Linked DNA regions of Homo sapiens. The protein of the gene in region 1 interacts with the protein of each later gene in a biochemical or structural test. Each region holds a gene or a part of one and is shown in the gene's direction. Other genes may lie near its edges.

Region 1 (7,721 bases):
CGGGCGGTCTGACACCAAAGCAGGGGCCCCAGAGCTGTGGCTAACATCCCCTGAGCTGCAGGGGTCAGAGATCAGCCACCATCCTGGCTGGAGTCCCACTGAGTGCCTGCTTCTGGTCCTGCAGGGAAAGGATCTGCTACTGCAGCTGGAGGATGAGACACTAAAGCTAGTGGAGCCACAGAGCCAGGCACTGCTGCACGCCCAACCCATCATCAGCATCCGCGTGTGGGGCGTCGGGCGGGACAGTGGAAGGTGGGAATAGGGCTTGGGATTCGAGGGTGGGAGTTCATCCAGCATCAGAGTCCTCCTCTCTAACTCTGTTATTTGCCTCTCTTGTGCTGCTGGACCCAGAGAGAGGTACTATGCCTATTTTCCCCCTCCTACACCTGGACCAGATGCCTGGAAGCACCCAAGCTCCCCTCTTCTGCCCTGCCCCTTCCCACCCGCTATGCTCCACCATTACCCTCCACCTCAGCATGCTTGCCTGTCTACCCCTCCCCCCCAAGAAGGCAGCACCTATGGGGGACCAGCTGTGGGCAGAAGCCCTGGAGGAGCTGTGATGGGCAGGGAGGACGTGGGTGGGGTGGGGACCAGGCTCAGCACTGGATGGTACTGGGAGACACTGAGGTGCCCCTTCCCCAACAGGGACTTTGCCTACGTAGCTCGTGATAAGCTGACCCAGATGCTCAAGTGCCACGTGTTTCGCTGTGAGGCACCTGCCAAGAACATCGCCACCAGCCTGCATGAGATCTGCTCTAAGGCACGGCCCCCTCCACTCCCTGGACTAGTTGCCACCTTTGCTCTACAAGGGTGTGGGTGGGGTCACTGAGTGCTGTAGGGGGGCCCCAGGGCAATGAGGCTCTAATAGATTCTCCCTGGCTCCTCGCCTCCCTTCCTTCCTCAGATCATGGCCGAACGGCGTAATGCCCGCTGCTTGGTAAATGGACTCTCCCTGGACCACTCTAAACTTGTGGATGTCCCTTTCCAAGGTCAGTGTCAAAACCCCTCCAGGTCCAGCTCAGCTTTGTTGGCAAAGGTGGGTGACCCAAGGAAAGGCATGAGCTCCTGGACAGCGCTGATAGAAAAATGAACACATGAAGACTGAATACTCCAATACGTGGAGGGACTCCGGTTAAAGGGAGGCAGGGGACGAGATGAAAGTAGGGCCTCGGCTGGGCAAGTGTCCAGCTTATGCCCTGCTGGTGGGGCTGCGGGTGAGCAAGGTCTGCCACCATGATCAACCTTCTCTTCTTTCCCATAGTGGAATTCCCAGCGCCTAAGAATGAGTTGGTCCAGAAGTTCCAAGTCTATTACCTGGGGAATGTACCTGTTGCTAAACCTGTTGGTATGTGTGTCCTTCTATACCCAGGGGCTGCTACCTTGATCCTAAAACTCTGCCCCTACCCTCTGCCTTCCAATACTTCTTCTACCAGACCTTCCTCATGCTTGGTGTCTCCCTACCCTTTAAAATGCATCCCACCTCCCCATACTTCTGTCCTAGCTCTATTTCCTGTCCTGCCTATAGCAGCAGTCAGCACGCCTTCGCTGAGCATCAGCCACGTGAGTGGTGCTGAACCAGGCACAAAGGGAGACCCCACTCCTTCATCCCATGGAAAAGCTTTGGTGGGATTGGGAGGCTGATGTTAGATGACTGGAGGACACCAGACAGCAGCCTGTAGCTGGGTTTAGTGTTACAGCACCAGCTGTGGGCTGGGAGCATCTGGAGAAGGAAACAGTGAGCATAATTGTCACATACTTCATTGTTGCAAAGAATTTTTTTTTTTTTTTTTTTAAAGACAAGTCTCGCTCTGTCCGCCAGGCTGGAGTGCGGTGGCGTGATCTTAGCTCACTGCAACCTCCGCCTCCTGGGTTCAAGCAATTCTCCTGCCTTAGCCTCCTGAATAGCTGGGATTACAGGCTCCCGCCACCACGCCTGGTTAATTTTTGTATGTTTAGTGGAGACGGGGTTTCACTGTGTTGGCCAGGGCTGGTCTTGAACTCCTGACCTCAAGTGATCCACCTGCCTCGGCCTCTGAGAGTGCCGGGATTACAGGCGTGAGCCACTGTGCCTGGCCTGATCTGGTTAACTCTTATATTTCAGTGCTTTCCTAGTGTCTGCTATTTATTTGTTTATTCACTTAACAAATACCTTTGAAGCTTACCATGTGGCAGGCCCTGGACTAGGCACAGGGAGAACAGTGGCCACAGTCCCATTTTCCTAGAGGTTATAGAAGGTTATGGTAGAAAAAAACCAGGAATTAATAAAATAATCACACAAATAAATGTGTGAGTTATTCGTTGAGAGAAAGTAGCAAGATATAACAAAGGAATTTCATCTAGTCTGAGGTTGTAAAAGACTTCCCTGTGAAAGTGACATTTGAACTGAAATCCAAAAAATAAGTAGAAGTGAATGCGGTCAAGTGGAATGGAGGTGGGGGTGGGATGGGGGAAGATCAGGGTCTACAGTGGGAGGCACTTTGGCATTTCCAAGGTACTGAAAGAAGGCCAATGCAAGATGAGGCCGACAGCTGGGCAGTGGTCAGGCTGCCAGGTCAGGGACCTCAGGGGCTATGTTAATGATTTTTTCTTCATCCTAAGGGCAGCAAGGAGTTATTGAAGTCTCCGAGAGTGCACTTGCCTTAATCAGATTTGAATTTTGAAAGCTCACTTTGGCTATTTCATGGAGGGGACTGTTAAGTGGGTGGAGGTGGATGTGAGCAGCTCAGTTAGGAGGCTCTTGCTGTAGTCCTGGCCAGTAATGAGAGTATCTTGGGCAACAATGGAGCTGAAGAAGAGTGCGTGGATTCAAGAGCTGTTTAGACGGGTATAGTCAACAGGCCTCAGTGATTGGTTCGATGTGGGTGAGGGACAAGGATGACTCCTAAGTTCCTGGCTGTTGGACCTTCTGGATAGTGGATTATTTCTTTCAAGGTGGCAGATGCTTGAAGAGGCCAATTTGAGCGTAGAGATTGTGAGCTCACTTTTGGACATGCTGAGTTTGAGATGCCTTTGGGGAATCTGAGAGGCAAAGTCAGGTTGGCAGTTAGATTCACAGATCTGGAGCTGAGAGGAGAGGTCTGGGCTGGAGATAGGAGTTTTGGCATTATTGGGTTGTAGAGGTAATCAAAGCCATGGATGTAGAGTAGCTTGGCCCTGGAAAGTGGGCATCCTGAAGTGAGAAGGGAAATGAAGCTAGTCATAGCCTTGAGGCCCTCCAACATTCAATGGATGTGTAGAGGATGAAACTGCCAAGGATAGTGACAACTGGAGAGAGGCAGGAAGAAGAAAAGAGGCTACTTGAAAAAGAAGTGGTAGGGTATCATGTCAAAAGACACACAGGAAGAACTCAACAAATGTTTGATGAATGAAATAAAAAATGAATTAATGAATAAATGAGACTTGCTTCAGATTACATGGCCAGGAAAGCTAGACCTGGGAGTCAAACCCCGGTCATCTTTAATTCTCTGCACTTTCCCTTATACCGTGCTGACTTTCACGTCCAAAATCTTACATTGAAAGAGGGGACCCTTCTTAGAAAAGGTGGGGATTGAACTGAGGTTTTGAAAGAAGGTTTGGATTTGCAGAGTGGAGTGGGTATTTCATTTGGATTCGATGGCACTGCCAAAGACTTGGAGCTGGAGGTGAGAAAAGCATGCTGACCCTTACGCCTTTGCTTTCCTCCTTCTCGTCCTCAACTTCTAAACCCTTGTTGGCTCTTCCATTTGTTACCCCCATTCCCATATGTGCTTCTTTCCATCTACCACTTGACTCTGGTCCTCCCTATGCCAGATCAACTGCCTGTGACCCTTGACTGCTCCGCTTGGACAAGTGGTCTCTAAACTTACTTCCTGCTTTATCTTATGCTCGTTTTTAAACATTAGCCCATCCAGAAGCTGCAATATTCATTCATTAATTATTCATTTATTTAACAAGTGGTAATGAATGCCTGATACATGTCAGGCACTATTCTAGCTTCTTGGCATGCATTAATCAACAAAACTGACAAAGATCCCTGCTTTTATTTAGCTGACATTCTAGCAAGGAGAGACAGACAATAAAATGAGTAAACCATGGAGTATGTTAGAAGGCAACAACTGATACAAAAAAAAAAGAAGAGAAAAGCACAGCAGGATTAGGGGGATTGCATGTGGGGCTGGAGGTCAAGGTCACAGTGTAGGTTTTAGTCCTGAGTTATCAAATCTGACAGCCTTTTTCCATACCTTGGTCCACTGCTTTCACTGCTTCCCTGCCAAACTTCCCAAGACTCTGAGGCCAGGCTCCATCTCCCACAGCCCCATCTATTCAGCAGTTTGACTATGATGTCCCTTTCACACACCTGAACTTTGAGATTTCCAATTGCCCTGGCCTAAATGTCATAAACATCACACCCCTCTGCCTGGCTTTTGAAGCACTCTGCAATCTGACCTGGCCCATCCACTTCTGTGACACTTGGTTTTACCAGTTCGGGTGCATTTGCCCTTGTTGCCTTGAGAGTGACTTGCTCATGCATCTGGAATTTCTTCAGCAGATAAGCCCTGTGTTAGAATTGGGGACAGAGGGATGAATTAAATTCCATTTCTGTTCTTGAGATGGCCACGGCCCAGTGTGGAAAAAAGTTTTCCAGCAGTTACAAGACGTTATGGTAAGAGTTGTCTCAGAGTTGTCCTCTCCCTGCCCTGCAGCAGGCATGGCTTCCTAGACAGCACCTAGTTGGAGCCCTGAAGGATGACAGTCTGAAGTTTCTCAGTCCAGCAGGGAAAGGGCACTCAAGACAGAGGCTTTTCCCTCAGTTGCAGTCTGTGTCTCTCAAGGGCATTCTCTTCTCTTGCTTTGTATTCCCCATCTGCTTTACAGGCCATTTGCCAAGATTAGTTGTTAATAATAATGCTACACAAATCATCTGAAGCTCAGGGAGCAGTAAAATATGAAGCTTGACAGCTCTGGTGAGGCCAGTTTTTGGAAGACTTGTATGCTTTTGGGAGCAGTTTGGCCTTGATCCAGCTAGAAGTCAGATGAGCAAGGCCAAGATGGGAGAAGACATGCAAGGAAGACATTTGTCCTCTGCCCAAAAGAGTCCACGTGGTCTGCTCCTAGTGGGAGCTGAGAGCCACTAAAAGGGGCAGAGGGCCTGGGAGTGGACCACAGAGGCATGTGCCTTTTGCACTGGCATTGTGCAGAGACAGTAGATCACACAGCCAGCGTATGAGTGTGGGGACTAGAACTGATGCCTTTGCCACAACATGTGCTCCTGCCTTGGTGCTCTGCTGAGTGCAAGCAAAAGTGGGATCCATGAGGGGAAATGTTTAACAGCAGTTTGAGGTGGAGGAGGCCATGTGTTATAAGGGAAAGTTGATTGATCTGAAAGTCAGGAACCTTGGGTTCCTTGGCTCTTGAGCACATTATAGACATTCTTGAGTAGAACTAAGATCTTGAAAGCCCTTCTAGTTCTGAAAACTAGTAATATAGAGAAGAGGTAGGAGAAAGGCATGGCTAAGAACCCAGGCTCTGGAATCAGACTGCCTGAGCTCAGGTCCCCATTCCTCGATGTGACCTAAGGCATATTACCTATCTCTTCCGTTTCCTTATTTGTAAAATGGAAATAAAGTAATCTATTGTGATGTTGTTGTGTGGGCACAAATGAGGTAATACACTGTAATGACTTAGCACAATGTGATACAGAGTAATCACTCCTCAGATAGATATCTTAAAAAATAATTGGGTCTTGGGAGAGGACTGGCCTGTAGGGTCTGATTTGGGAGTTATTGTGGTGTGAAGCAATGTGATGTCTGAGTGTGATGAGCGCTGAGAGAGCATGATTTGGGGAAATCAGAACTTTGAGAGGTCAGTCAGTTCAGAAGTGTGGAGGAATAGGCAGAGCCGGTGAAAATAACGAGCCTAGGATCCAAGATTTTAAAAAGTAGGAAAATGTCCAGTTACTGAAGCCAGGGGAGGAGAGCCCCAGGGAAGGGATACTTGGACAGCGTTGTCCAAAATGTAGGCTGGCAAAGTGGGGATGGGGCAAAGGCCCTGGGTTTGATTGGGTGGAACTAGAGGTCCAGGGTAGAGCTGGGGTATCCTCTGTCTACCCTCAGTGGTATCTTGTGTCCATATGTTCTAGGGGTAGATGTGATTAATGGGGCCCTCGAGTCAGTCCTGTCCTCCAGCAGCCGTGAACAATGGACCCCAAGTCATGTCAGTGTGGCCCCTGCTACCCTCACCATCTTGCACCAGCAGGTAAAGAGCTGGGGTAGAAGTCGTGGCTGCGCCTTGCCATAGAGGGGAGACTGGGGGTGAGGGGAAGAGCTGCTAAGATGGATGTGGAACACAGTGTGGGGTTGGTGTTCCTTTTTAACTGAGTTCCCTCCATGCAGACAGAGGCAGTGCTGGGAGAGTGTCGGGTGCGTTTCCTCTCCTTCCTGGCCGTGGGCAGAGATGTCCACACGTTTGCATTCATCATGGCTGCCGGCCCAGCCTCCTTCTGCTGCCACATGTTCTGGTGCGAGCCCAATGCTGCCAGCCTCTCAGAGGCTGTGCAGGCTGCGTGCATGGTAAGCTACTAGTAGGGTGGTGTGGTGGTGGCGTGGCCCCATGGGAGGTAGGCTGGGGAGTGACTGCCCTGCTTGCCTCCGCAGCTTCGCTACCAGAAGTGTCTGGATGCCCGTTCCCAGGCCTCCACCTCCTGCCTCCCAGCACCCCCTGCTGAGTCTGTGGCACGGCGTGTAGGGTGGACTGTCCGCAGGGGTGTTCAGTCGCTGTGGGGCTCCCTGAAGCCCAAACGGCTGGGGGCCCATACCCCATGAAGAAGCCCCCACCTTCCCTCCACCTGCTTGTGTTGGGCCCCAGGGAACTAAAGGGTGTGGGTCAGGGAGGGGTCTAGAGGCTATTCCTAGGCCTCAGGCCTCCCAAATATGCCCCTCCCCAGTAGCTACGGTTCCCTGCCTAGGAGCTGGGGAGGGAGAGATCTAATCCCTTCAAGGAAGTGATAACACTGGAGTGGTAACAAGAGGAGCAGGAAGCAAGGCCAGCCCTGGTTCTCCATCCCCATGTGTTTCAGGTGGAACAGGAGGAACTGGTCCAGGCCAGGCCTCATCCTCCTGGACCCAGCAGGGGCAGAAGGAGGAAGGGACTGGTCCAGGCATGGGTCCCTTCCCCCTGCTCCATGGGCACCTCTGCTGTATTGATATCACTAATAAAGTCTGTCTGCACTGCTGTGTGCCTTCTTATGCCTGTACCACACCATCAACCCATTAGCCTGTGCCTCAGTTATGATCTTGCTCCAAAGATCTCCTTGCCCTGCTTGCCTGGAAAGAAGAAATTGGGACAGTCACACAGGGGTCTGGAGTCCAAGTCTCTTATCTTTATTTTAACAGACTGGCAGCATCAGGTCGCAGCAGCAGTACAGGGTTCCTGGCTGGGCAGCACAGGCCTGGGGCGACAGCTCCTGTCTTGTCTGCCCAGGGCAGTGTCAACTTAGGCCTCTACTCCATGGCTGTGAAAGGACAGCAGCCTCAAGGCAGTCTAGCTCCTGGGCACAGGCAGCCAAACCCCCTCCCATATCCAGCTAAACCAGCTCCAGGAAAGGAGAAGGTCCTGTTTCCCCGGCATCCTTGGGGCCCAGGGACTGGTTCTTTCACCGGATGATCTTGCCTGGTTGAACCACAGCAGCATTTGGGCTTTTTCACCCTTTCCTACATCAAGAACTTTCCCAAATGTGGGCCCTG
Region 2 (8,836 bases), on another chromosome or scaffold:
AAAGCTTGGATTTTATTTTTAAATATGACTTGGCATCAGGAATGTGCTCACCTTGGACTACCAATATCGTGGCTCACTTAGGCACCAGAGGGCACGGGAGTAGGCCTCACCTGCCAGAACAGAGGAAGCTGCAGCGGGGGCCCTGCTCCCTTGGTAACCCCACCTCCACCCCCTGCCACTTTGTCGCCTTCTCCTGGCCCTCCCAGCTGCCTTCCAATTGGCTGACCCAAGTGAGAACTCTGTGTGCCCAGGGTCTTCACACTGCAGTCCTAGTTCCTCTCATTACCTTCCCGTGGCTCCATGAGGATGATGCGAGATGACAGAGGCCCACAGCTGCAGGCAGCTGGTGTGGCGCTTCATGGCAGGGCCACAGCCTGGGTTTCCTGCCAAGGGGCTCTTTGCTTGCATCACAGATGGCAGGGAGGGGAGGCTCCCCGTGTGTCAGGGAGCAGCAAGGTGGATCCGCAGCACGGGCGTCTCCGGAGCCTCTACTGGGCCTGGGCGTTTGTACATCGCCAAGACAGGAGGCAGGCTTCTGAGCAGTTTCCTGTGAGAGTAAGTCCAGGTGTGTGGGGCTTACAGTGGCCACACAAAGGCGAATGGCTCCGTGGGTGAGAGAGCCGGGAGGGCTCGCAGAACGATGAGGACGTCCCGTGCTGTAAGAGGGACAGTGGGCAGAGTTAAGGTAAGGCTGGGAAGGCTGACGCCCCCTGTGCCTGGAGAGCTAGGTGTGGAGGAAATGGACCAAAAGTCAGGCTGGAAGAGGGAGCCTCCTGGTGCAGGGCATCGGGTTCCACCTCAGAGCACTCAGAGGCGAGGATGGGCCACAGAGAAATAGAAATAGTTTTGGAAAAGAAAATATGAATGCTTTCCCTAAGTCCTAGACCAAGCTGAGGGGAAGCACCTTTCTGTCTGAGAACAGGAAAAGGCCAGTATTGCCAGGAGCCAGTGAGATGCCAGATGCCGGTGGGAGAGTCAAGGCCCTCCCAAGAACAAACATGCTTTGCATAGCTCAGCAGGGATCAATCAGGTGCTCTCTGAAATCCACCTCAGTGATGGCTACTGGGTGGAGCCGACGATGAAAGTGCCCTTGCCAGGTTTCTTTTCATGTAGGTTGTCTCCCGCCTCTGAGGGCATGCAGTTGAGTCTCCCAACAGTGGAGGGCAGGAGGGAAATGAACGTGGACAGAAAGCTCCTGTTCAGCAGCACTTTCACAGACACTCATCCCGCCTACACTCCCCGTGAGCAGGTGGCTTGGTCAGCGTTCTGTTTCTAGGAGATGGGACACTGGCTGCTGGGGGGTAGCTGGTGAGGTGTAAGTGATCGTGGCTAGGCCAGTTAGGAGACTCTGACAGTCCAGGAAGAGATGATAGGGGCATGCAGGAAGGTGTTGAAGGTGAAGACAAAAAAGACAGGCAGGTACCCAGATTTAGAGAACTGACCAGGCTGACAGTTATAAGAAGCTGGTGTCAGGGATGATTCCCTGGTTTCTGGGCTGAGGGACGAGGTGGGCAGACCTGTCCTGAGATGGGAGCTAAAGAAGGGGGCCCCTGCTGTAGCTGAGGAGGCTGCCAGGTAGGCCCATCACAGACAGGTGACAGCCTGGCCACGGCCCATTATCACACCTCAGACCAGCTCCATGCTTGATGGGCAGCTCATCTCAAGTTGAAAAGCCACAGAAGCGTATCTCTGGGAAACACTGAGGGTCTGCCTGCCTCTGTAGACCTGGGAGGTCAGCAGATACCACTGAGGCCAAAAAATATGGGTGAGGTTTTAGAGTACATGAAACGGGGATTCATACTGGGGAGGTGCACGAACCGACTCAAGGGCGTCACGTGGACCTATTCCAGGGCTCCTCTTCTGAGCATTTCCAGGCTCTGAGTGGCATTCTAGATTGGGGAGGGCGTGGCTGGGTTAACTGAGTTCCAAGACACAAGGGCCTTAGAGTGACACAAGAAAGTGTCCAGTGTCCCGACCTGTGGGACAGACTGCAGCCCAGAGAGATGCCTCTCTGTCCCGTGTGGCCAGGCCTTCAGTGTCCTGGGGACAGAGCGTGCCCGCCTCCCCTCCACGCCTCAGATGCTACAGCTGCTGCCAGTAGAGCTAAACAGACATAGAGGCATCTCGCCCTCTCTGCCTAGACCAGTTTTGTGTCCCAGGCCATGACCACACGGAGGGCCTGGACATTTGCCTGGGCCTGGCTCCTCACCAGACGGGGCCTAGACAAGCCGCCTCCTTCACGCCATCGTTTTCCCACACAGGTTTATCTGAGGACCGGGGTGAGTCTGGCAGGGTGGAGGCAGAAGAGTTCTGGGACAGTGAGAGAACGTGAGGAGCTGATCTGTATCTTCCCCTTCTCTGTGCCTAGGAGAAAAGCAGCCTCCCAGTCAGACAAGCCAGCCGAGAAGAAGGAAGATGAAAGCCAAATGGTGAGCAAGCAGCCCGCCCCACCCTCAGGCTCCCCACTGAGATGAGCGCATCGCCAGGGAGGCTCTCTGGTCTCAGGCGAGGCCTTTGGGACATGCGTGGGATGGGCGCTTCATCAGGTGATTCACAGGAGGGGCGGAGGGTCTCTGCGGTGCTTGTCCCTGCGCCACCCTGGCCCCAGCAGCAGGCCTGCCCTCACTGAGCACCCCCTACCAGACACTGCTCCACCCTTGGAGCTGCAGCCTGAGGCGCTGGCCGCTGCACCGCAGGGCTACCTCGCCTTCCCAGGAGCCCCGGGGAGCACAGACCAGCCAGGGTCTCGGCGGGACTGGGACTCCAGGAGTACACTGCAGAGGGGCACGTCTGCCAGAAGCCCAGAGAGGTTTTTATTTTCAAATTATTTCTGTTTCTAAAGACTCCTCTTCCAGCAGGAGCTTCAGGTGAGCTGTGGCAAAGGAGCCCTGGACCCCTGGCTCTTGTCCTTACCAGGCAGCCCAGAGCCAGCCTGGCTGCCAGAGCTCCCAACATCTGCTTCCAGTTAGGGCGGCTAATTCTCTTTTCCTCCATGTTAAGCTTTTCCTATAAAAAGACTCCTACTGACAGGGCTAAGTTTAGCCTTAACTACAAATGCCTTGAAGGTTCCACCTCAGTGCAGAATCAGAGAGGAAATAAAACTGCCAGGGACCAGAGCAGGCTTCCTGCCCTGTCCTCCCATCAGTCAGGGTCATGCTGGTGTTACCCTGAGGCTATAGCCCTCCCAGCTGATCCACGCCTCTCAGCCCCGTCCTGGGCACATATGGGTCCCTTTGCCCCACCAGCCAACTCCCATTCAGCCTGCACTTCCCTGCATCACCCTTACACCTTAAAAAACAGCCTCCCGGCCGGCTCAACACTTCACACTTGTAGTCCCAGCACTTTGGGAGGCCGAGGCAGACGGATCACCTGAGGTCAGGAGTTTGAGACCAGCCTGGCCAACATAGTGAAACGTCATCTCTACTAAAAATACAAAATTAGCGGGGCATGGTGGCGCATGCCTGTAATCCCAGCTACTCGGGAGGCTGAGGCAGGAGAATTGCTTGAACCTGGGAGGCGGAGGTTGTAGTGAGCAGAGATCGCACCATTGCACTCCAGCCTGGGCAACAAGAACGAGACTCCGTCTCAAAAACAAAACAAACAACAACAACAAAAAAACAGCCTCCCGACCCCCAGGCCTCACAAAGCTCCTCACTACTTGATCCCAGCCCCGGTCTTCTCCCGAGGCCCTCTGCACAGGCACGACTGCTTGTGGAGACTCGTTGTCTCCTGCCAGATCTTAGGCCCTTGGAGGGCGAGGCCTGGGCTTCTCACACGTCCACCATTCCCATACCTTGCACATGCTGTGGAGTTTAGCCAACTGACTTGCCATGAATTTCTGAAATTGCAGGCCACGGGATAATCACAGACATCAAAATACTGTGGCCTCGCTCCAGCCACAGCCCTGGGGATCTGAAGACATCGCTGGCCTTTCTTAGTCAGGTGCCAGTATGTTGCAGTCCCAGCCCCTGAAAACTAAAACTCTCGCTCCTGGAGCTCTAAGAAGAATGGATTTCAAAGCCCAGGGGCTTCTGGAAGAGGAACATTCTTGAAACCTTCAACCCCAAGGATAGCACTCTCCTCCTCAGACCCCCATCTTTTCTGTCTTGTTTTTCACAGGCCCCTGGCTACAGCTGGTTCTTGTTTGCCATGGTCCCTTCTCATACCCAGGACTAGCGTCTAAAGAGAGCAGGGCCTTCAGAAGATCCACACACCACACAAGTGCAGTGGGAGGGAGAGAGGCTGATGGCCGGCACTCGTTTTCTTGTTCATGCTTCCTGGTATTTCCCCAATTCTCTGCAGTGAACATGCACTAAGTTTATCATTAACAGAGAAGAAAGAAGGCTTATTTGAAAGACGAAAAGAGCCCCAAATGTGGAGTCCGGTGACTTGGGCAGGCCCTCTGCCATGGCAGAGCTGGCCCTGGGCCAATGGAGTTACTGCTCCGAGGACCAGTTCCACCACCTGAAAACCTGCACCCAGGCATGGCCGCCTCACAGACTGTGCGACTGCCAGAGGTGGGGTGCAAGTCTCTGTGCCCAGGGCCTGGGAGTGCTGCGGCCACCTCTTTCCCAGCCTAGAGTCAAAGCATAACTTCCCTTTTAAGCAGGGAGGGTTTTAAAAAAATAACATACAAGAAAAGATGATAATTTTTTAGTGACTCTGATGTCACCCTGTATCGCTTTCATCGTGGCCCCCACATGTGTGTGTTGATTGACATAATCTGTTATTCAGCTGTCTTTAAAATGAGGAGGCCTGAGAACCTCATCCCAGCACCTGCAGGCTGGCACCTGCTTTTGCCTCTCGACCAGAGCCTCCCGGGACTTACTCGTTCACCACACAGATACGCAGGGCGTTCCTGATTCTCGTGTGGGGATGTAGTGAGCAGAGGAGACAAAGCAAAGACCTCTGCCCACGGTGACAAGGGAGAGGTTCTTTGCTTCAGATCAGAATGACACATCAGGTTGGGTGGCCGCCTGTCAACAGCTCAAATGCTGTGCATTCTGCTTCATCAAGTGGAAGGATTACTCTTATTACTTAATCAGTGGCATGTTCCTGATGCTGAAAAACCATCCTGACGCACATGCCATGCATGATGAGTGTTAGGTGTCCCCACTGCTGGATGAACACGTCCACTGTTCGAGCACTGCCACAGACCTATTACACGGGCAGGTGTGTGTGCTGCACAGGGGGAGCAGGCCAGTCCACGGGGTGCTCATGAGAAGTCAGTGAGATGACATACGGGAGGCATCCGGCCCAAGGGGGGCTCAGGGCTTGCGGGTGTTGAGGGCCAGAAGGAAGTTCTATATCACCCTGCTGAGAGCCTGTAGCTCCCTGTAGCCTTCCCCTTCCCCAGCTTTGTCCACTGGCTCGATTCTCTCCCCACTGAGATTTTGCGTTTTCACTTTTAAATATTTAATGTTTTGCTAATTATAAAAGTCATATGTGTTCATTGGGAACATTTGGAAAACTGAGGTTTTATGAAGTGTCCAATGATGTCCTGCCCTGGCCCCAGGTGGCCTTCCTAAACAGACTCCCTTCTTCTCCATTTTAGGAAGATCCTAGTACCTCCCCCTCTCCGGGGACCCGAGCAGCCAGCCAGCCACCTAACTCCTCAGGTGAGAGGGCGCCCCCCGCTGACCCCAGTGAGGCATGAGGTCTCAGAGTGGGAGGGGGGACCCTTCGGACAGGACCCTCTGATCCAGCCTCTTTAGTATGCCTGAGCAGAGGGCCAGGCCACAGGGAAGCCCATTTCTTATGGGTCCCCCAGAGCCTCCCCCAGGAGCCCATGTGGGAGCACAGGAAGTGCTAGAGCAGAGCCACTGTGATGGGTCCCCAGGGTGACCTGCGTGTCACCTTCCCACCAGGACCCTGAGTCCCGCACGAGAGAAGGCACTTGCCTGACGGCACATATTCAGGGTGGGAGTTTGTGTCCAGGGCTCCTGAGGCAGGCTGGGGCCAGTGCTCTTAAGAGGTATCAGTGTCAGGACTCATGTCTCCCAGTGAAACGCCAGCTGATGACCGACATTACAGAGATGGCAGTAGATCTCGCTCCACCCAAAACGCAGCCCCTTCCCTGGCTCAGGTTTCTCTCTGTCTAAGCTGTGGCAGATGGGAGGTAGTTAGGAGAGTATGATGAGGCTTCGCAGGGGAGGAAGACCCCAGGGTTGGTTGTTCATTCGACAAACATCTTTGCAGCACCTGCTCTGTGCCAGGCCTGTGCTCATGAGCACAGCGAGGAGAGACAGGGGCATCAGGCTGCCCTAGCTGGGCAGAGGAGGCTCTTGCCAGCTGTTCGCGTGTGTCTCTGGGGCATGCTCAGGTTGGGTGTCGCCTCCCTGTGAAACTGCACGCCATGTCCTCTCCTCCTAAGATTTTTGCCTGGTGTCTTGATTTGCCAGGATGCATAGGTTCCTGGCTGATGAACGTGATCAATACCCCTGCCCTGTTTGCTTCTTCCAACAGCCCAGTGAGTGGGCTACGTGGTTCCCATCTGTGTGCAAAGTGGTTTGCTCAAGGCCACACACCTGGGACATGTCTGTAGCCCCAGGTCTAGTGCCTGCAGGCCCAGCGCCTGTCCCAGAAGGTGGCTTTGAGGAAAACTGCCTCAATCCCACCGTTGGTCCGCAGGGTGCCAAGGCTTAGCTCTGGGCCAGGCAGCTGCCCCACTACCCCCTAGAGATTTTGTCTTCTGCCTCTGCTTGTCCTGCACAGTCAACGAATTCAAGTTAATGCAACAAATCTTTTGGAGTAGAACAAAATATAATCCAATACCACTTAAAAAAGACAAGCCAGCCAGAATGGGACAGAGCCAGGCGCAGCATGGGAGGCAGACTAAGGAGCCCCTCAGTAGCAGGTGCCGGGCCGAGGGGCCTGGCCGCCACACCACACGTGGGAGCAAGGCTGTGCTGGGATGTCCGGGGAGGTCGTGCTTGCTCGCCCTGTGGCTCTAGTCACTGGGTCCCTTACCAGCAGGCTCACATTCCAGAGAGACCTGGCACAGTGAAGGGCTCAGAACCAGATCACAGGTCAGGGTCAACCTGACCTAGGCCATGGGGGACTGAGAACAAGGTGCCAGGTTTTGGCTTAACTCAATCAGACCTTCCTGCCACGGGGCTCTGCACCCTTGGCATGGGTGAGGGCTTCCTGTTGGGGTGTTTAGGGGATTGGGGTGGCTACTGAGTCCCTTCACCTGTGAGGTTCTTCATCCATGAAATGAACTGACAGAGGCTGGCCGGAAGCCCTGGGAGCGGAGCAACTCGGTGGAGAAGCCTGTGTCCTCGATTCTGTCCAGGTGAGCTGCCCCAGGAAGGCCTGAGCAGCGAGGCTGGTGGGGCAGAGGCGGGCGCTGGCGCCGATTCACATGTCTGTTTCATTCCATTGCCGTAGAACCCCGTCTGTGGCAAAGAGCCCCGAAGCTAAGAGCCCCCTTCAGTCGCAGCCTCACTCTAGGTACCGAACAACCCTCCTGCTCACATGTCCCCCAGGGTTTGGGGCTCCTCTGTCCCCCGTCCCGTGACTAACACCCTTGCACGCTGTCTCACGTCCTGGCATTTAACAACTTGCTCTGCGAAGGTGGTCTGTTCTTTCAGACCCAGGACCTCGGGGTCCTGTCAGTCAGCTGCTCCGTCTTTTCCCTCTGAGAGAGAGACCAAGGGCAAGGAGGGCAGTGACCTGTCCACAGAGGTAGTGCAGGGGGGGGCCAACATGGAGTCCCAGCTCTGGACTCACTACGTGTGACAGTGGGCAAGTTAGGGGACCTCTCCAAGCCTCTGTTTTCCCCCCACAAAGTGAGGTCTGTTAACCCCTGCTGCACAGGGTGGTGGTGGGGACAGCTGTGAGCAACAGCTGGACATGGGGTGTGGTCACTAGCCAGGGCTGCACCCTACAGTTCAACCAGTCCTAGCACTGGCGCTGAGCCCTACCCCTTTCCTCCAGCCCAGAGTCCTTCCTCTGCGGCCGGCACACAGAATCAGTTTCCCCACAGACATACTGACCATATTTCCCAAGCCAAAAGCTGGCATGACAACATGATAGAATATTTGGAACTGAGATTGCCCAAAAAGGCAGAGGCAGCCAGCCACATAGTATCTGGAGGTACATGTGGCCTGAATTGGAAGGCCTCTAGAACCTGCGTCAAGAATGTCTCCATCGCCACCACAAATTGAAGGGAAACCACCCTTATCACAGAGCAGGAGGCATTGAAACTGGCCTTGCAGAGCTGAACAGGTGGTGAGAGCAGAGCAGTGCAGGTGGACAGAGATGAGGAAGTCTTAGCAGTCAGCTGGGGTTTGTCCAAGGCTTGTGGTCAGCCAGGCCGTGTGCTGGGGACAGTCCCTGCCTGCAAAGAGCACCGTGTGAACAAGGCCACTGTGGTCCTGAGGGGTGCTCTGGACAGGGTGCAGGGCCACATGGTGGAAGGGACAGGGTGCTTTGCGGAGTGGGGTGGGGCAAGCCTCTGTCGGGAGCTGGCATTTTCGTTGACCCGGACGAGGAGGAGTCTGCTCTGCGGAGATCATGGGGACAGCCTCCCAAGCTGAAGGAAGGGTAAGTGCCAGGGCCCTGAGCCTGCAGCCACCCGCCAAGCTCCCCCGCACCTCCACCTGGAAGCAGACAGGCCATGGGGCAGGGGAACGGGAAGGGTGAGGAAGAGGGTGTGGGGGAGCGCGGAGTTAGAAGTTTGCATTGTGTTCATGCGCAGGGCCCAGTCATGGAACTTGAGGCACAGGGTGCCATGGTGGAGGCTGGGAAGGGGAAGGCAACCAGAGTGGGCAAAACGAGGGCCCTGGAGCAGACACGGCAGCAAGGGGAGCCTGCAGCGCTCCCAGCGGACTCC
Region 3 (8,836 bases), on another chromosome or scaffold:
GATCCTATTTATTTATCTTTAGTTTTTCTTTCATTTTGGACGTGTTCCTCAAATATCTAGCAATCCTTGGCTGTGCATTTATGTTTAAGCATGGAAGACACTGACAAACTGATTGGGAGCTCTGTGTATATGAGAGGGGCTTGTTACCTGTCAGGTTTCTGCTTTATGTGAATAGGGTAAGGAACTGTTACTACTGCTAGGGGACTCTCAAATTCAAGGATTTAAGAGACATTCAGCCTAAGGAAAGGCTGGTTGATGGTTCCGAATATAGATTTACGTATTTTTAGCCCCAAGTTTTACTCCTTTCCTTCCCTAGCACCCCCTAGTGTCTGAGAATCCTGACCTTCTCTGAGGTTCTCTGGGCAAGCCAGCCTTCTTTTGATTTTATCCCTTTCTGCCATCAGTACTCTAAACTGGTTTCTTCCTGCTCTGTAAGTTACCACTCATATTTGTTCTTTGTCTTTCAGAATGTACAAACAAGATTTTCATCTTCTGATTACCTCCTCTCTCTGTTTATTATGGGTTTGTGTATTTTTGAGTTCCTTGCAATGGGTTTGTAAAAGGTCAACTTGGCTGAGCTAAACTCCATTTCCCAAAATTCCCTTTCTCTCTCTTTTTTTTTTGAGACAAAGTCTCACTTTGTCACCCAGGCTGGAGTGCAGTGGCACCACCTCAGGCTCACTGCATTCTCCACCTCTTGGGTTCAAGTGATTCTCCTACCTCTGCCTTCCGAGTAGCTGGGATTATAGGCACACGCCACCATGCCCAGCTTAAGTTTTCTATTAGTAGAGACAGGGTTTCACCATGTTGGCCAGGCTGGTCTCTAACTCCTGACCTCAAGTGATCCACTCGCCTCCGCGTCCCAAAGTGCTGGGATTACAGGCGTGAGCCACCGTGCCTGGCAGTCTTTCCCATATGTTTCTGATTAGGTTGGGTCACAGGGAGATTTTCACACCTAACATGAGACATTTATTGCTGGACAACCAAAAACATTCTCTTTCCCCAGAAAAGCACACAAAGTCTTTTTTTTTTGTCTTTAAGATAATATTAGTTCATCCTTCTCCACCTGATTCACACTCCCTCTTTCATGTTCTGTAACTTAAATACTGAAATATAAGGTTAACTCTTATTAACACATGTTAGATAATAAGGAAGAAAACTAATGAACCAAAAAATATTTGGTTAATACACACACACACACACACACACATATTTAAACACAAATATATCAAATTAAGGAAGAAATATTTGTAACTATTGTAGTCCATATTTCTGCAATGGTCATGTGGTCATAGCTGGTATATATGTTCTTCCACTACTCATTCCATATTCCCTTTGCTCTAAGTAAGTACTTCAGCCAGTTCGGATTCCTTGCCTCATGGGGTGACCCAGGCTTTCATTCTTGAAAGATATGGGCTATTAGCAGTTCTTTCTGAATTACTTCTGCTGTTTGCAGTTCTACAAAACCCTTTGCAATTTTCCGTGGACTTGAATCTCAGGACATGGGAAATACTAAGAGATGTCCTAGAGGATCTCTTGCATTTCAGACACACTTCACTTCACCTGTATTGTGCAATAGTCACTCAAATTCCTCTTGAAAGTTAGGGTCAGTTATCCCCAGTGAATACAGTAACCCTCTCCATTGCCTCTTGATTTGGAACTTCAGAGTAAAGTTGGGGTCTCAACTTCAGGTTAGTGGAATCATTTGTTGTGTCCCCTAGTGGATGTGTTCGTCTCTTTGAAACTAGACTTTTAGAACAACAAAGCCTAAAGTCACAGGGATAGGAAATAAATATTTTGCCAACACTGAATTTATTAGTCTTCATTGATTTCCCAAAGAAATGAAAGAAAAAGCCTCCTAGCACTCATTAAAAGTCATGAAAGGCATCACTGTCTACTACTCAGTCACCTAAGCCAGAAACCTTGGAATCATCTTAAATTCTTCCCTTACAACTATCATTTTATTTCTACTGGTGACAAAATCCTATCAATTCTACCTTATTTTACATCTCTCACTTTTATCCCCTCCTCTACATTCTCATATCAGTCACTGCCTTAGACTAGGCATCACCTTCACTTACCCAAATTGTAAAGATGATCTTTAAACTTTTTGTCTCTGTCCACTATTTTTCTGCTAAAGCAATCTTTTAAAAATCAGACTATATTTAGTGGCTCTAAGTGCTTATAAGGTAACACCAAACTCCTTAACCAGCTGAATTAATTTATCTGTTATAATCGAGATCCAAGTCAGATGGCTTTAACAAGTTAGAAGTTTATTCTCTCTTAGGACTTAGGTGATGGTTCAGGAATCCAGTTCCTTCTGATTTACCTGGTCTTGGATATTTCACCACCATGTCAGAACCAGCATGAAAAAGGAAATGGAGAAGAGGAGGATGTGCCCTTTCCTTTAAGGGGACAACCCAGAAGATGTGCAAATCATTTTCACTCTCAGCTCCTTGGCCAGAACTTGGCTGCCAGTTCTAGCTGCAAGAGATATTGAGAAAGAGAGTCTTGTCTGGGGGGCCTTGTGTCTAGCTACAGGAGGCCTGTTATTGTAGATAAGTGGGGAATGGGTATTGGAAGACCACCAGTAGTCTCTGCCACATGAGGCATACACAATCTTCTGGAGAGTGATCCTCGCTTACTTCTTTACCTTATTTTTTAGTGTGCTGCTTTTCCACATTTCCCTCTTTATCAGCTCTCTTGACTCTGTTTCCCCTTTGCATTAGCCATGCTAAACTATTTGCACTTCCAAACATGCTCTGCTGATACACGTTTCTCCGCCTTTCCTCTTGCTTCCTTAGCTTGAGGTGCCCTTGCCACATACTTTCCTCATCTCCAACTCATTCTGTCAGCTTGATTTCAGAGAAGTTGTCTTTTAAAACTCAACATAAGCCTCTCCAATTCTGTTTTCCTTATTGTGTACACATAGACTTGAGACATTACATCTCTTGGTACTTATTTACACTTAGATTATCTTTATATTTTGTTGTAAACTCTTTGAGGGCACATATGACATTTTATTCTTGTATCTCTTGGATGTAATGTAATGCCTGACAGATAAAGGATGTGTACTTTCTTTTTACTGGATGAGCAAGTGGGTTTATAGCAAAAATAACTGTGCAGACTTTTTAAAATGTCAGAACCTACTCTTAAGATAGGGCTACTGTTTCTTTTTTTTTTTTTTTTAACTTTTGTCAATCAAAATGTTAGTGCTAGCTCTAACAATATTTATAATCATCCTATATTTTCTTGTTAGTCTTTTCATATTTAGTTTTTAGTTACAATTTAATTCCAGAAGTGCTCAGAGTTAGTTATGGAATTTGTTAATTTTTTTCTCTTTAAAATGAGCAGCCTTTTCTGTCTCCTAAGGCACAGTATTTATAATTGCTTTTTTTTTTTTTTTTTTTTGAGACGGAGTCTCACTCTTGTCACCCAGTCTAGAGTGCAATAGCGTGATCTCAGCTCACTGCAACCTCTGCCTCCCAGGTTCAAGTGATTCTCCTGCCTCAGCCTCCCAAGCAGCTGGGATTTGCAGGCACCTGCCACCACACCTGGCTAAATTTTTGTATTTTTTTTTTTTTTTTTTTTTTAGTAGAGATAGGGTTTCACCATGTTGGCCAGGCTGGTCTTGAACTCTTGATCTCAGGTGATCTGCCCATCTCTGCCTCCCAAAGTGCTGTGATTACAAGTGTGAGCCACTGCGCCAGGCCTGTAATTGCTTTTTAACCGTTCAGTATATCAGTGACTTGCGGCAGGAGATGTGTTGAAGTAAGTTAGATAATACTGACATGATTTCCAAAGCCTGTCCTAAGACCTTCTGAGCACTGCCACCTTAACATACTGGTTCTAAGATATTGGTGACTCAGGATTAATTTAATGACTGAAAAGAGTCATTGTTGTAAACAAATTCTAAGGCAAGAGTGCCTTAAATATTCTTACATGGAGAATTTTTTTTTTCTGCTTTACTGTCTTGAGTAATATCTTTTGTTTTACTTGTAGATTTGATGGTCCTCGAAGATTTGAGGATTTAGGGTCAAGGTGTGAAGGACCGAGACCCAAAGGGCCTCGTTTTGAAGGAAATCGCCCCGATGGGCCAAGACCCAGATATGAAGGTCACCCAGCAGAGGGCACTAAAAGCAAGTGGGGAATGATTCCCCGGGGGCCAGCATCTCAATTTTATATTACCCCCAGTACATCCCTAAGTCCTCGACAGAGTGGACCACAGTGGAAAGGCCCCAAACCAGCTTTTGGACAGCAGCATCAGCAGCAACCTAAGTCACAAGCAGAACCTCTTTCAGGAAACAAAGAACCATTAGCAGACACCAGTAGTAACCAGCAGAAGAATTTTAAAATGCAATCAGCTGCATTTTCCATTGCTGCAGATGTAAAGGATGTCAAGGCGGCTCAGTCAAATGAGAATCTAAGCGACTCTCAACAAGAGCCACCTAAAAGTGAAGTCTCGGAAGGGCCCGTAGAGCCCTCTAATTGGGACCAGAATGTTCAAAGTATGGAGACTCAAATCGACAAAGCCCAAGCTGTTACTCAGCCTGTACCCCTTGCGAATAAGCCTGTACCTGCTCAATCTACTTTTCCTTCAAAAACAGGGGGGATGGAGGGAGGAACAGCAGTAGCAACATCATCATTAACAGCAGATAATGATTTTAAACCTGTGGGTATTGGTCTACCCCATTCAGAAAACAACCAAGATAAAGGCCTGCCTCGGCCAGATAATAGAGATAATAGATTAGAAGGCAATAGAGGCAACAGCTCATCTTACAGAGGTCCTGGGCAAAGCAGAATGGAAGACACACGGGATAAAGGTCTAGTAAACAGAGGTCGCGGCCAGGCAATCAGTCGAGGCCCAGGATTGGTCAAGCAAGAAGACTTTCGGGATAAGATGATGGGTAGAAGAGAAGATAGTCGAGAGAAGATGAACAGAGGAGAAGGTAGCCGGGACAGAGGGTTGGTGAGGCCTGGAAGCAGTCGGGAGAAAGTGCCAGGTGGTCTTCAAGGGAGCCAGGACAGGGGTGCAGCTGGCAGCCGAGAAAGGGGACCACCTCGGAGGGCTGGCAGTCAGGAGAGGGGACCTCTTCGAAGGGCTGGGAGTAGAGAGAGAATACCACCCCGAAGAGCTGGGAGCAGGGAGAGAGGACCACCTCGAGGGCCTGGCAGTCGAGAAAGGGGACTGGGAAGATCAGATTTTGGTCGTGATAGAGGTCCATTCAGACCAGAACCAGGAGATGGTGGGGAAAAAATGTATCCATATCACCGGGATGAGCCTCCTAGGGCTCCATGGAACCATGGAGAAGAGCGAGGGCATGAAGAGTTTCCATTAGATGGTAGAAATGCTCCAATGGAACGAGAAAGACTCGATGACTGGGATAGAGAGAGATACTGGAGAGAATGTGAACGTGACTATCAAGATGATACACTAGAGCTCTATAACAGAGAGGACAGGTTCTCAGCACCACCATCTCGGTCTCATGATGGAGATAGGCGAGGCCCTTGGTGGGATGATTGGGAGAGAGACCAGGATATGGATGAGGACTACAATAGGGAAATGGAAAGGGACATGGACAGGGATGTGGATCGGATTTCAAGACCTATGGATATGTATGATAGAAGTTTGGATAATGAGTGGGACAGAGATTATGGGAGACCACTGGATGAACAAGAATCACAGTTTCGTGAACGGGATATTCCATCTCTTCCACCTTTACCGCCCCTCCCACCTCTTCCACCTTTGGATAGATATCGGGATGATAGATGGAGAGAAGAAAGAAATCGAGAGCATGGGTATGATCGAGATTTCCGTGATAGGGGTGAGTTGAGGATTCGAGAGTATCCAGAAAGAGGAGATACATGGCGGGAAAAGCGAGATTATGTTCCTGACAGAATGGACTGGGAAAGAGAACGGTTGTCAGACAGATGGTACCCATCTGATGTGGATAGACATTCCCCCATGGCGGAACATATGCCCTCCTCACATCATTCCTCAGAAATGATGGGGTCCGATGCAAGCTTAGACTCTGACCAAGGCCTTGGAGGGGTAATGGTTCTCAGTCAGAGGCAGCATGAAATCATTTTGAAAGCTGCACAAGAACTGAAAATGCTTCGGTAAGTTGACTCCTTCAGATCCTTTCTTTTAATAAAAACCACATTCAGACTGCTCTTTTTAAAGTGATATGATATATTTGAATGGAATCATTTTACTTCAAGTTCTTATCACATACTTTTAATTTATATTTCTGGTCATTCAGTGCTGTTTTAGGGTTAGAATGGGTATTTAGGAACTGTGTTAATGATAAACTTATGCCCTAAGATGTGAAAATTGATTGCTGTCTTGGCCTTTGTAGAAGTGTTGCTGGCATGCCATGCCTGTGCATGTTTCAAGTGTCAAACTTCAACTTTTCAGTGCTCTGGATTTCACAGGGTTCATGTGTAACCTTCATTTTTTCCAGTAATCAGTTTGTTCTTTGGTATTAGATCTGATAGACTTTATATTCACTAATCATTGATAAAACTTTGGAAAGTGCTGTATTTTTCTTTGTTGAAGCTAAGAATGGTTTGCTTAGGAGCATCCTCAGATTTGTCTTAACTATTGATACTTTCTTTTGGGGATGTTTTATCTTTCATTATAACTAAAAGCAGATATTTCTCCTTGAGGATGTTATTTGTTTCTACATAACCAAATGTTTTCTTTGTGAAATGGAAAATAGGATTTCTTGACTTACAATCAACTGTGTATAGGTATCTACATAATTTTCCTCTTTTCTTGTGGTAACAACAATAACAAAAGCTAACATTTATTGCATGCTTACTCCGGGCCAGGAACTGTACTAAGTGTGTTGTGTATAATAAACTCATTTAATCCTTAAACCAGCTGTATCTTGGGATAGGAATTTAGAAGTCAGTGACAGATTGAAAACTTTTTTAAAGCAATTTTTTTGAGAAAGTCAATTAATGATTAGGTTTTGATAAATTCCAATGTATTTCTTCCATTTTTCAATTCTGGTTTACATTTGTGGATCTTAACAATAAATTATAACTTAAACTTTAGAACTAGGAAAGAAAAATACGGTGAAGAAAAGGTAATGATGAAAGACCAGATACGGCAGGTTTGTATGGTCTATAGCTAAGAGGTTTATTTTTTCCAGATTACTCATGAAGAAAATGTGGAAAGCATGCTATAGAATATTTAGCTACTACACTATTCACTTTTAAGTTATAGACACCTTTAATTTTAACACCTACCGTGTAACTGGGCACTTGCTAATAATTGAGTGTATATTATGTCAGTCTGTCTATCTCAAAGGCCTGCAAAGATAAGGTAGTATTATCCCCACTTCACAAATGACACTAAAGTTCAAAGAGGTTAAGTTCCCTTGGCTAGTAAGTGGCAAACCCGGCCTTTGAACTCAATCTGTCTAAAACTCTAAAATCTGTGTTATTTATGGAGAATACCAAGCTGATTGGTGTTGTTAAGCTGCCAAGGTTTCTTTTTTTTTCCTTTTTAAATTTCTTTTTAATTCGTTATTGCTTTGCATGGTAATGCTGGATAAAAGGTGCTGCTGCTGCTTCATCCTTTTTTAAAGCTTTCTAGGCAACATGAACATAATTAAACAATATATAGGGAGTGATGGATAATGTCATAGCCGAATACAAGTCGTTTATGTTGTGTCAGTGTAAAGTCGTAAGGAGTATCATAAGGGATGTGATGATGGGATTTACCTGAGCAGTAAATAATCTTACACACTTGACCCTTACTTTGTGGTCCCTCATTTGTGGACCCTCATTTGGGTCACTTTAATGTAAGGAGAAAATTGTAAAAGGTCTTAAGAAATTGTAGTGGATTTTACCTATGTTTAAGGTAGGCATTGTGAAAAAAAGTAAAAGGAATTTCGTCAGTTTAAAGAAAAAACCGAAGGATTACATAATTATCTTCAGGAATATGAAATGTTGTTTTTAAAGGTATAGACTGACAGTTGTTCTCACCATCTACAGCAGGGGCCATAAATTAAAATGTCCCCAAGAATCAGATAACAAAAATGAGTGAAAGTGGGCCAAGTATAACTCTGTAGAGTACGGTGAAGATTGTGACAGGTTGTTTCATCTAACATGGGCAGCCTCTACTGCACTCAGCTGATTGTTGGCATGTGGGAATGTAGGCCTGGTGTTACCATATCTCTTTAAGATTTGAATTTATATATGAAATATTTTGCTTTGTAAATATGACAGCTAATTTCAAATTTTAAAAACTGATGTGAAAGCCACATTTTGAAAACCTTTTTAGGCCATATTTGGCCCATGGGCCACCATTTTGCAACCTCTGGTCTAAAGAGTTGAAAAAAATAGGCCGGGCGTGGTGGCTTACGCCTGTAATCCTAGCACTTTGGGAAGCTGAGGCAGGCGGATCATGAGGTCAGGAGTTCGAGACCAGCCTGGCCAATATAGTGAAACCCCGTCTCTACTAAAAAAATACAAATAATTAGCCGGGCGCGGTGGTGCATGCCTGTAGACCCAGCTACTCGGGAGGCTGAGGCAGGAGAATCACTTGAACCCGGGAGGCAGAGGTTGTAGTGAGCTGAGATCGCGCCATTGCACTCCAGCCCAGGCGACAGAGTGAGACTCTGTCTCAAAAAAAAAAAAAAAAAAATAGCAAGAGAGCTTTTGGTTGGATTAAAGAAAAACATAACAAGTAGATGAGATAGTAGAAAACAACTGAGGCAGGTTGTAGAATCTATTCTTGAATATCTTCAATAATTTATAATTATTTATATGTCTTAAATGACTGATGAGTTAGCTACATAAAAGCAAAAGAGGGTAATCCTGG
Region 4 (5,972 bases), on another chromosome or scaffold:
GTGCTTGTAGATGACTGGTATGGATTTTCAGATGTGAACTCCAAACTGAATTCTTAGAATTACAATATGATGGAATTCAGCTGCTAATCTAACTTAATTATATACTAATTATATCTAACTTAATTATATACTATATACTTAATCTTAAATTGATACCAGTAGAAGCAAATGCATTAGGAATTTGAGCCATGTCTACCACTAGGCACACCACCACTATGGAATCAGAATCTAAGTGAAGCTTGAGTACCCTTTCACATACTCTGTATATTGATTCAAAACTAGTGGTAAGCACTGGGCAAAAATGGAATAGAGCTTAATGGACAGCCAGTAGGCTCAGCCATCATATTCTTGAAAACCTAGAAAATGCCAGTATTCTGGGTCTCTTAAATTCATTATTTTAAAGTCTGGATGATCTGGCTGGGTGCGGCACATCACTTGGGCTCAGGAAGTTCAAGATCAGCCTGGACAACATGGTGAAACCTGTCTCTACGAAAAATCCAAAAAAATTAGCCCCGTGTGGTAGCGCACACCTGTAGTCCCAGCTATTCTGGAGGCTGAGGCAGGAGAATCACTTGAACCTGGGAGTTGGAGGTTGCAATGAGCTATCACGCCACTGCACTCCAGCGAGGGCAACAGAGCAAGACTCTGTCTCAAAAAAAAAGAAAGTCTGAATGATCCATATTGCTGGACTTTGTTTTTTGTTTATTATATATTGCATATATTTTTATTATATTTTATTTGGCTTGATAGACTTTTTGGCTTAAGACTCCTGCTCATAGCTAGCAGTGAATTTTAAGAAGCTAGTGCTGATTATAACTACTCTTCATATCTGTGTTTGCCTAAGTTTGGGGCCATTATAAGTAGTTTTTTTTTTTAATATTAATGCTTAAGAAGTTAAATTTATTCTATAATGTGCCATGTGTGAAGTTGAGAGATAATGGTCTTTTTCTACATATACTCCCTCTCTTATTTTTAATGTATTTCGCCACTTTAGGATTAAACTGCAAATATCTCATGAAGCTGCTGCCTGTATCACTGGTCTCCGGGCAGCCATGGAGGCTTTGGTTGTTGAAGTAACCAAACAACCTGCTATCATCAGCCAGTTGGACCCCGTAAATGAACGTATGCTGAACATGATCCGTCAGATCTCTAGACCCTCAGCTGCTGGTATCAACCTTATGATTGGCAGTACACGGTGAGTACCAATATACTTCTTACTGAACCAAGTAGAGGGGAGAGATCTTATGTAGGCCTAGAATTCCTGAAGTTAGTGATAGAAGCCCTATTACTTAAGTAAAATTCTAGATATAGATAGAGCTATATAGATAGAGAGTTTGATGTTCTGAGTTCTAACATACTCAGAACAAAGAATGTCATTTACTTTTTTGTTAGTAGTTGGTCTGCTGCATCAGTGCATGTTGGTAGTGTTAGAAGGAACTTACAAATGCACATACATAGTTCAGAGTGGGTCACATGACAGGGAAGTGACACAGCCCAGATAGCCCTTTTTCCATGGTACTGTTTTGGCATCTCTAAAGAAAAATATTGATGAGATGTTAAATTGTTTCTGTATCAAATGTATATGTGTTTTTGTTTATCTTAAACAACTAGAGCATGGATATCTTAAAGAAATGAGAAATTTATCTTAATTCTTAAAATTTTTATTTGCTTCAGGTTTTAAAATTTTTTCTTTGCCCACTAATTTTTATTTACATATACTTGATACTTACCAAAAAGGCAAGAAGAGTGATACAATGTATAGCCATATAGTCTTTATTTAGGTTCACTAATTTTCAGCATTTTGTATTTGCTTAATATTTGTGATGAAGTAGCAGGCATTACCACATTTTACATCAATACACTTCATGTCTTTTAAGAACATGGCCACAATACCACAATCACACCCCAAAACCTTAAGTGTTTTAGTAATACTATAATATACTAAGGTACTAAAATTCTTCCAGTTATCCAAAAATGACCTCTAATTCCTCATCAAAAATGATGTATTGGCATTTGATCTATCTGTAAGATGGGTAGATTGTTATCCTCATCCTCTTTAATATAAACAAGGAAACCAGGCACAGATAAGACCCAAGGTCATACAGCTAATAACTGATAGAACCAGGTTCAAACCCAGGCAACATGGCTCCTGAAACAGTGCTCTTACTATGCTATTCTGTGGCCCTCCTAGGTGGTTAAATGCATAGAATAATTCAATAACCGTCATAGGCAGATAACAAATGAAGTATTCATGGGTGTTTAGGAGAAGAGAGATTATTTTTGGTAGGAGGGCTGGTAAGCAAGGAGCCGCTGTGTATATAATCTGTTTCTATGAAGGATAACAGTCCGGAAACTAGAAAGAAAGGGATATATGCAAGAGAGTTTAGGATGTATGAATATGTGGTGGCTTAAATTACAGTAGTAGAATTGCAATGGGGAGATGTGACTGGATTAGACAGATTTGTGGTAGAATCAATAGGAATTGGTGATGGACTAAAATGGAATAGTGCAATGAAAGAAGGAAGACAGATTACAGTCATTTATTTTTATTTTTATTTTTTTTTAAATTTATTTATTTATTTATTTATTTATTTTGAGAGTCAGTTTTGCCCTGTTGTCCAGGCTGGAGTGCAGTGGTGCCATCTTGGCTCACTGCAACCTCTGCCTTCTGGGTTCAAGTGATCCTCCTGCCTCAACCCCCCGAGCAGCTGGGATTACAGGCACACACTGCCACGCCCAGCTAATTTTTGTATTTTTAGTAGAAACAGGGTTTTGCCATGTTGCCCAGGCTAGTCTCTAACTCCTGACGTCAGGTGATCCACCCACCTCAGCCTCCCAAAGTGCTGGGATTACAAACCTGAACCACTGCACCCAGCCACACAGCCATATTTCTGACTTAGCTGCTGAATTGGTGGTGTTATTCTCGAAGAAAAGCTGCACAGGAATAATAAGCAGATTGGGGATATGTTTAATTGAAGTTGTTGACAGTCCATCTTGATTTCTGCAATTTTTTATTCGCTTTATTTTCCTTATTTGCCACATGAAACAGATTTAGGCATTATTACCAAGGACATTTTTCAAAATCATATTTCAGAATTATTGCAGGAAAACATCTGGTGATAAAGACCAAATAGTTTATTGGCAGCTCCAGGAACCCTCTCCTAATGCTTGCCTTCTTGGAACACTTATGTTATTGAACTGAGTAAGAGGACTGTCTTAAAGTTCTAATGACATACTGCCAAAATTCAAAACCTTTGAGATTGAACCAGAACTTCAGAAAAACAGATGGATACAATTGATGACTGTTTTAGAATAGCAGATCAATTTTATTTCAATTTCTATTTGTGCATTTGGCTTCATTCCCTTTATTAAATTTTCAAATATAACTAAATGTGTACATTTGGTAAGTCGTTGGGAAATAATAAGAATGCTTTGCTAAAGTGATGGTTTTGTGCTTTTCCTAGGTATGGAGATGGTCCACGTCCTCCCAAGATGGCCCGATACGACAATGGAAGCGGATATAGAAGGGGAGGTTCTAGTTACAGTGGTGGAGGCTATGGCGGTGGCTATAGCAGTGGAGGCTATGGTAGCGGAGGCTATGGTGGCAGCGCCAACTCCTTTCGGGCAGGATATGGTGCAGGTGTTGGTGGAGGCTATAGAGGAGTTTCCCGAGGTGGCTTTAGAGGCAACTCTGGAGGAGACTACAGAGGGCCTAGTGGAGGCTACAGAGGATCTGGGGGATTCCAGCGAGGAGGTGGTAGGGGGGCCTATGGAACTGGCTACTTTGGACAGGGAAGAGGAGGTGGCGGCTATTAAAACTTGGTTATGTCAGTTCCTGTGTGTAGACAGTAAGGAAAAAAAGGCATGCTATGTGTTACGTGTTTTTTCCAGTATGTTTATTTGCCACCAAAAAGTAAATGCATTTTCACCCATTCTGTGGTTCATTGTAGTTTAAGGAAACCAAGCATATAGATGCATTAGTGATTTTGTTTATATTATGTAAAATATAACGATCTCTTAAAAATACCACAGTTTGTATTTTTTCTTTAAGGAGTAAAGATTTGCCTTTAAATAACTTGGTATTTTCCTGGCTTTCGTTTAATACAATAGAAAATAAAGTATTACACCGAATACTTGCCGTGTAGTTTGTTTGTTGACCTCGTATGTTAGAAAATTTTACAATGCCAGCTACATCTGTTGATTTTAAATGTCAGAGAAGTTGTACCCTGTTTCAAAAGTATACTAAGTGATACTACTTGTAATAGAATAAATCATCTTGGAATTGAATTGTTACCTTTTGAAGTAAATACTGGCAAGTGCACAAGCCACATAAACCTGAATAAAACTTTTGACCTAGGGTTGAACATTTGGCTTCCTCCCATATTCTGTCTTTGAATAAGACCAAGGCCAGCATTTTCTTTTCTAAGTTAGTTTCCACGATGACAATTAAAAGCAATAAAATCAATCCATAGAACTCTTGAATAAAAGGTAAATGAAGCTTCACTGATGTGACACATTTACCTACCTTACTGTGTTGCAAAAGGTTTTTGTTAAGCTACTTTGTTTTAATAGAGATATTCATACATTTATAGCACATTACAGTTTCCAGTGAATTTTTTCACATTTCTCATTTGAGCAAGATACAGTGGAGAGGGCAAAGGTACTGGATTACACAGAACTGGGTTTGTCTTAATTCTGTTCTCAACCATGTGGATGATCTTGGGCATATTTTTGTTTTGGTTTCCTTTTCAAAGTCCTTTATCCTGCATACATGTTTTAGATCACCTTCAGCAATTATTGTTAAGCTGATGGCACCTATCTGCAGACTCACAAGTCTGTCTCCAACCGAAATTTCCTTTCTGAGCCATGTAAACAACTGCACACTGAACATGCGTCTCTGCTTAAATATCCCACAGAAAAAAATCTCAGTGCCTTCCAAACTGACCTTCCCCTCCCCACCTACCCTGTGTCCTGACAGTACTATGTTCTCTGCTCTGCTCTTTGGAGTTTCAGCTGCTTAATTGCTTAAGCCACCATCTCTAGTCAGCTCAAAATATCTTTCAATATACTTTTATAGTTGAGTTGCCTCTGTTCTATTCAGTCTTAGTTTGGACATACAGTGCCACAGCAACTTAACTGATCCTGCCTACAGGCCTGCCTCAAGATGATCTCCACTACAGCTACAGTAAACATTCCCAAACAAATCCAGTTTCATACCCCCTCTCCTGACTTAAACTAATGGTTCTTAACTGCCGTCAGGGTAGAGGCTAAACTCCCTTCTTAGCCACTCACTCCGGCTCTACCTTCATTTCTGCTGTACAGCTGTAGCTAGCCAAACTGAACTAGCACCATCGATTGATCATGAGCTTTCTCTCCCTTTGCAAGTTGTGAAAACTCCCATAAAAGGTATAAAATCAGTAATGGTTCATTTGAATGGTACTCATCCCTCCAACAAATTCAATTAGAAATGTAAATTGATAAATGGCCAAAAGTTGTCAAAGTGCATTCTCTGAAGGTTGAAAGAAGCACTAAGGCACAGTTCTAACGTTACCATGTTCAGCTAAAGACCTGAGGAGCTCCATGTGTAGCTTCCCCCGGTCTTGTGCCCCACATATTCCAGCTGTCCTCCCTAAACTCGTTTGTCTCTTAACCGCAGTGCTCTGCTTGGTACTTTCTCCCTCTGCCATGACCCAGAAAGTGCTTCCACATAGCCATGGACTTGTCTCATTTGTTTTCCTTATTGGGGATCACAGTTCTGCATTGCCTGTTACCTAATGTCTGAAAGCAGCTGTTTCACTAGTTGCTTACATGGGAGGAAAAGTTCAGTGCCATTTGTATTTGTCATAGCTGTAAGTGGGAATCCAGTTACCAAAGAATCCATCATAAGGTCCAGAAATCATTCCTTTTCTTAGATGAGACTTAAAAGAGCAGAAGGCTACGTAGAGTATTTTGTGACATTAATACCTTGAGAC

What was found.
Region 2: the proteins of APBB1 (region 1) and EVL form a complex in vitro, tested with the Homo sapiens proteins (2 studies listed by BioGRID).
Region 3: the proteins of APBB1 (region 1) and YLPM1 form a complex in vitro, tested with the Homo sapiens proteins (one study listed by BioGRID).
Region 4: the proteins of APBB1 (region 1) and DHX9 form a complex in vitro, tested with the Homo sapiens proteins (one study listed by BioGRID).

Annotation. Positions count from the first base shown.
Region 1 is NC_000011.10:6,394,613-6,402,333, reverse strand, and holds the end of APBB1 (amyloid beta precursor protein binding family B member 1), read left to right. Parts: intron 1-124; coding exon 125-252; intron 253-351; coding exon 352-357; intron 358-645; coding exon 646-760; intron 761-904; coding exon 905-989; intron 990-1,261; coding exon 1,262-1,345; intron 1,346-6,118; coding exon 6,119-6,234; intron 6,235-6,371; coding exon 6,372-6,548; intron 6,549-6,632; coding exon 6,633-6,800; 3' UTR 6,801-7,209; downstream 7,210-7,721. UniProt on the Homo sapiens protein: Transcription coregulator that can have both coactivator and corepressor functions. Adapter protein that forms a transcriptionally active complex with the gamma-secretase-derived amyloid precursor protein (APP) intracellular domain.
Region 2 is NC_000014.9:100,130,351-100,139,186, forward strand, and holds part of EVL (ena/VASP-like protein), read left to right. Parts: exon of another isoform or gene 1-110; intron 111-286; exon of another isoform or gene 287-2,368; coding exon 2,369-2,429; intron 2,430-2,696; coding exon of another isoform or gene 2,697-2,809; intron 2,810-3,850; coding exon of another isoform or gene 3,851-3,938; exon of another isoform or gene 3,939-5,548; intron 5,549-5,554; coding exon 5,555-5,618; intron 5,619-7,227; coding exon 7,228-7,294; intron 7,295-7,389; coding exon 7,390-7,452; exon of another isoform or gene 7,453-8,547; intron 8,548-8,836. UniProt on the Homo sapiens protein: Ena/VASP proteins are actin-associated proteins involved in a range of processes dependent on cytoskeleton remodeling and cell polarity such as axon guidance and lamellipodial and filopodial dynamics in migrating cells.
Region 3 is NC_000014.9:74,793,578-74,802,413, forward strand, and holds part of YLPM1 (YLP motif-containing protein 1), read left to right. Parts: intron 1-4,002; coding exon 4,003-6,120; intron 6,121-8,836. UniProt on the Homo sapiens protein: Plays a role in the reduction of telomerase activity during differentiation of embryonic stem cells by binding to the core promoter of TERT and controlling its down-regulation.
Region 4 is NC_000001.11:182,883,619-182,889,590, forward strand, and holds the end of DHX9 (ATP-dependent RNA helicase A), read left to right. Parts: coding exon 1-17; intron 18-994; coding exon 995-1,195; intron 1,196-3,464; coding exon 3,465-3,816; 3' UTR 3,817-4,364; downstream 4,365-5,972. UniProt on the Homo sapiens protein: Multifunctional ATP-dependent nucleic acid helicase that unwinds DNA and RNA in a 3' to 5' direction and that plays important roles in many processes, such as DNA replication, transcriptional activation, post-transcriptional RNA regulation, mRNA translation and RNA-mediated gene silencing.